2 separate regions of the Homo sapiens genome follow, and region 2 is linked to region 1. The links come from fine-mapping of genetic effects on gene expression. Tissue or cell type: blood mononuclear cells. Region 1 holds a variant in brackets; the other region holds the start of a gene. All regions are shown on one strand. Distances are from middle to middle.

The links. PIP is the estimated chance that this variant, and not a neighbour inherited with it, causes the effect.
Region 2: RCE1 starts here. The variant in region 1 is fine-mapped to the expression of RCE1 in blood mononuclear cells (TOPMed, PIP 0.93).

What each region holds. Positions count from the first base shown.
Region 1 is chr11:66,809,021-66,811,861 of GRCh38, forward strand. All of the region lies in intron 7 of TOP6BL (TOP6B like initiator of meiotic double strand breaks), which reads left to right. Among named protein-coding and RNA genes, the nearest start is that of RCE1, 33 kb to the right of the region's middle. The variant G/A (reference allele first, on the strand shown) is at 1,406.
Region 2 is chr11:66,842,297-66,844,955 of GRCh38, forward strand. It overlaps RCE1 (Ras converting CAAX endopeptidase 1), which reads left to right and starts at 1,145. Exons shown (of 8, transcript NM_005133.3): 1 at 1,145-1,344; 2 at 1,463-1,565; 3 at 1,660-1,743; 4 at 1,990-2,068; 5 at 2,573-2,659. The coding sequence starts at 1,160. TOP6BL (TOP6B like initiator of meiotic double strand breaks) reads left to right here. Exons shown (of 15, transcript NM_001302084.2): 14 at 553-773; 15 at 873-1,220. The coding sequence ends at 938. RefSeq lists silencers at 686-825, 936-1,375 and an enhancer at 1,016-1,722.

The DNA of each region.
Region 1 (2,841 bases):
TGCAAGCTCCGCCTCCCGGGTTCATGCCATTCTCCTGCCTCAGCCTCCCAAGTAGCTGGGACTACAGGCACCCGCCACCACGCCAGGCTAATTTTTTGTATTTTTAGTAGAGACGGGGTTTCACCGTGTTAGCCAGGATGGCTGAGACAGATTTAAGAACAGAATAATCAAGCAGTATAAATAAAAAAGATTTCTACACCTAAAGAGATGAAAAACAGAGAAGAATCTTAAAATCAGTCAGGAGGACAAATCATCTTTAAAAGATAAATTAACAGTTGACTTCCCCATACCAACAGAAGGTGTTAGACTAATAGTGTTAATGTCTTGAAATAAAATCATTACCAACCTAGAATTTCATATCCAATCCAAATATTCCTCAACATAAAAGGTAATAAACTTACCTGTATATTATGTTAAAATTATAATCCACGTAACAAGAAGAATTAATTCAACAGACTTTAGAACATGGTGTTTTGACTATACGTTCTTAGCAGGATATACTCTAAGGATGAAATGGAAGTCCAAAGACCTCTTAAAATTTATTCAGTGGCATGATTGTTAGTAATAATATTGGTATTTTATATTGGAATTATTGTATGCATACTTATGATAAATAATTATGTTAACAATGTTAGGAACCAAAGTTTTTAGCATCAGATAGAAGATATGTGAGTGTAAATTCAGAGAAATAACTATTTTTTTTAAAGGGATCTCACTCTGTTGCCCAGGCTAAAGTGCAGTTGTGCGATCATAGCTCACTGCAACCTCGAACTTCTGGGGTTAAGCAGTCCTCCTACCTCAGCCTCTCCTGAGTAGCTGGGACTACAAGCATGCACCATCATGCCTGGCTAATTTTTTTATTTTTATTTTTTGTAGAGACAGGGTCTCACCCCCGAGTTTCCAAATTTAATGAAAACTATAAACCTGCAGATTCATGATCAATGAACCCTAAGTGTAAGAAATATGAAGAAAATTATACCAAGTCACATCATAATCAAAGTATTTGAAGCCAGTAATAAAAAAATCTTAAAAGCAGCTGGAGATAAGACACATTATGTATAGAGGAACAAAATAATTATGGCAGATTTCTCACTGGAAACAGTGTTAGCTAGAAGAAAGTGGGGTAACATCTTTATAAAGTACTGAGAGAAAAAAGGCAAAATGAAGAATTTTTCAGACATAGAAAAGGTGAAAGAATTTATCACCAGAAGACCTGTATTATAAGAAATGTTAACAGAAATCTTTTAGGTAGAAGAAAAATGTTGCCAGACGGAATTCTGAATCTACCCAAAAAAGGAAGAGCACTGGAAGTGGTGGCTATGCGGGTAGATACAAAATACTTTTGTCCTTTTAAAAACACAAAATATCCTTCTTGAGTATATAAACCAAAAAGCATCCAAGACAG[G/A]TTTCAATCAGTTTAGAAGTTTATTTTGCCAAGGTTAAGGATGTTCCTGGGAGACAGGTCTGTGCCTTTCTCTAAAGATGGTTTTGAGGTCTTCAGTATTTAAAGGGGAAACGCAGGCTGGAGAGGAAAGATGGAGGGGATGATCACATTATTGAATCCATATGTTACAAGAGAAAAGGAGCAAGTAGGGGAACAGTCAATTATGTATTTGTCTTGTGCTCAGTAAAGTGGCCCTTTATATAATAGAAGGTGAACATTACAGTAGCTACCTGTAGAGGTATTTAACCCTTTATCTGTAGCTATCTGCTTAGGAACAAAAGGAGAGACAGCTTCTTGCATGACTCAGCTTTCAGCTAAATTATTTCCTTTTGGCATAGTGATTTGGGGTCTTGAGTTTTAATTTTCCTTTCACAAGTACCTTACCAGAAAAAAAAAAATCTTTAAAAAACAAGTCTTGAAGTCTCTCCCTTCAGGCTCCAATTACACATTCCTGAATTAGGCCACCTAAAGTTATCCTGCAGTTCACTGAGGCTTTATTCATTTATGTAGAGACAGGGTCTTGCTGTTTCCCAGGCTGGAGTGCAGTGGCTTGATCTTAGCTCACTGCAGCCTTGAACTCCTAAGCTCGTGTGACCTTCCCACTTCAGCCTCCTGAGTGGCTAGGACTACAGGTGTACACCACCATACCTGGCTAATTTTGCATGTGTGTGTGTGACATATCTTGCTATCATTTTCTATGTTCTTCATATTTCTTTTTTTTGAGATGGAGTCTCACTCTGTTGCCCAGGCTGGAGTGCAGTGGTGTGATCTCAGCTTACTGCAACCTCTGCCTCCTGAGTTCAATCAATCAGGCCCCTGAAATGATTTCTATCTCTGCCATTTCAGCCTCCCGAGTAGCTGGGACTACATGTGCCCACCACCATGGCCAGCTAATTTTCGTATTTTTAATAGAGACAGGGTTTCGCCATGTTGGCCAGGCTGGTCTCGAACTCCTGACCTCAAGTGATCCGCCTGCCTTGGCCTCCCAAAGTGCTGGGACTACAGGCATGAGCTACTGTGCCCAGCCTATACTCTTCATATTTCTTATGCTTAGGGTTCATTGATCATGGATCTGCAAAAATATAATGTATAAGGTTTATAACATCTATGGAAATAAAACCTGTGACAATAGCACAAAGGCCAAGAGGAGAGAAGTGGAAGTATATTGTTGGATTCTTAAACTTTATATGAATTGTTATAATATCATTTGAAGGTAGACTGTGATAAGTTAAAGTTGTATACTAATAAAGCCTGGCAATCCCTGGTTTAATGCAACAGTTATAACTAATAACTTAAAAAGGAGATAAAATGGAGTTATAAAAAATTCCTGGCAGGCATGGTGGCTCTCACCTGTAGTCCCAACTACCTTGGAGGCTGATGCAGAGAGAGGCTCGCTT
Region 2 (2,659 bases), 33 kb after region 1:
TTGTACACAGGTCTGCATCCCCTCCTAGCATCTGTGAGCTTCTCTCAGGGAAAAGCTCATTGATCTGCATCCCCAAGACCTGCTGGGGAAGAATCTATCCATCTAAACTCGCTTTAATTTGACAAATGAATCAGTTAAGAGTAGGAAAGCTGCCTATGGGCACTGCTCAATGCAACGTGAGCAACAAAGGGAGACAGAACTGAGGCCAGAAAGGTGAGGGGGGACAGAGGCTGGCAGGGAGGGGAGCTTGTCAGTGCAGACTCCAGGAAGAATCTATACAGAAAGTTACTGAGCGGCCTGAGTCCCCCAAGTGAGGGCTCGGGACAATCTCCCGCCTGGGTGAGAGAATAGGGAGACCCTGAAACGTCTCTGCAGCCTCGGGCTGCTCCAGAAGCGCCCACAGCTGCAGGGTTTTGGTGTGGATGGGACCTGCTGACAGGGATGCGGTGGGAAGAGCCCCTCGGCGCCCGTTCTCCCAGGCTTCCCCTTGGCCAAGGGTGCTCCTAGCACAGGGCCATGAAAGTAAGATGAAGAGGCTTGTTTTTCTCCTAGATACCAGCGGGCAAGCAGAAAACAAGAGGCTCAAGAGGGGCAGCCCCCGCATAGAGGAGATGCGAGCTCTGCGCTCTGCCAGGGCCCCGAGCCCGTCAGAGGCCGCCCCGCGCCGCCCGGAAGCCACCGCGGCCCCCCTCACTCCTAGAGGAAGGGAGCACCGCGAGGCTCACGGCAGGGCCCTGGCGCCGGGCAGGGCGAGCCTCGGAAGCCGCCTGGAGGTAACTGGGCGAGGGCCGCGCAGGGAAGGGCTCAGCAGGAGGTGCAGGCCACGGGCCGCTGCTGAGAGGTCCTCACCCCGGGCCCCCTTGTTCCCGCAGGACGTGCTGTGGCTGCAGGAGGTCTCCAACCTGTCAGAGTGGCTGAGTCCCAGCCCTGGGCCCTGAGCCGGGTCCCCTTCCGCAAGCGCCCACCGATCCGGAGGCTGCGGGCAGCCGTTATCCCGTGGTTTAATAAAGCTGCCGCGCGCTCACCAAGTCCTCTTCCGCGTCTGCTTCCGCGTCGGGCCCGGGCGGGGCGGGGCGGGGCGTGGAGCCGCGCCGCGGCCTGACGTCACCCACACCTCCCTGGGACTGCGTCACTGGTGCGCGCCGCGGGTCAGGGCGCAATGGCGGCGCTGGGCGGGGATGGGCTGCGACTGCTGTCGGTGTCGCGGCCGGAGCGGCCGCCCGAGTCGGCGGCGCTGGGCGGCCTGGGCCCCGGGCTGTGCTGCTGGGTGTCAGTGTTCTCCTGCCTCAGCCTCGCCTGCTCCTACGTGGGCAGCCTCTACGTCTGGAAGAGCGAACTGCCCAGGTGCGGGGGCTGCGCGCGACCGGAATCCGCGCCCTGCGGGCGGAGCTTGGGCGAGCCGGGGGCGGGTCCGTGCTCATGGGCAGCCGCGGGCCCCCTGAACTTACTGTCCCCTCCGTAGGGACCATCCCGCGGTCATCAAGCGACGCTTCACCAGCGTCCTGGTGGTGTCCAGTCTCTCACCCCTGTGCGTGCTGCTCTGGAGGGAACTCACAGGCATCCAGGTGCGAAGGAGGCGGGGCAAAGGGCAACGGCGGTGAGAGCTCAGGGGTCTTTAGGGGAGGAAGCAAAACTGATGCCCCCTTTCCTGTGGCTCAGCCAGGCACATCCCTGCTCACCCTGATGGGCTTCAGGCTGGAGGGCATTTTCCCAGCGGCGCTGCTGCCCCTGTTGCTGACCATGGTGAGTGCTCCTGCTGTATTTTTTCTTCTGGTCTTTGTTATCAGCCTGATGGGCAGTGCCGTGGACTCTTGTTTTTGGTTTTTGGTTGATGGGAGACAGGACTTTTGAGATGGCCCCAGGGTCCTCCGGTATGCATGGTCTGGAAATCGTGGCTGGAGAGGATTTCAAGCTTGGAGTCTCAGGGAGCATGGGCAAAGGTCTGGGCAAAAGCGGTGGGTTATGGTGAAAGTGTTTTCTTGCCCTCAGATTCTTTTCCTGGGCCCACTGATGCAGCTCTCTATGGATTGCCCTTGTGACCTGGCAGATGGGCTGAAGGTTGTCCTGGGTGAGTCTTAAAGGCTGAAGGGAAAAGTAGGCACAGGCAGTCCAGGACATTGGGGCAGGGAGTCAGCGGGCTCAGGGTGTGATCTGGACACGTGAAATGTCATCTCTCTGGGTGTGTTTTCTCATCAGTAAAATGGAAACATAGAGCTAGGTGGCCTCTAAGGGTTGATTGCCAACGTCCAAGGAGTTCCCTGGGAACCCCCAGCAGTATTTGGTGTGGATCAGAGAGCACTGTCCCCTGCTTCCCCAACCAGAGCTAGTCTTGCTTAAATTTTGGTGTCTCCAGAGTTTACTTCCAGGATGCCCTTGCCTCAGCTAATGCCTTCCATTCAGGTCATCTCAAGACATTGGGTTTATGTTGGGTCCACACCCCCGTCCTCAGCAGTATTGATGCCTAACCTGAGTTTGGCCAGGGTAAAGTTGTGGGAGAGGAGCCCTTGGAGCCTCTGGGGTCTCACTGTCTGACAGCCCGTCACTCACAGCTTGTCCTGAATTCCCTCTGCAGCCCCCCGCTCCTGGGCCCGCTGCCTCACAGACATGCGTTGGCTGCGGAACCAAGTGATCGCCCCGCTGACAGAGGAGCTGGTGTTCC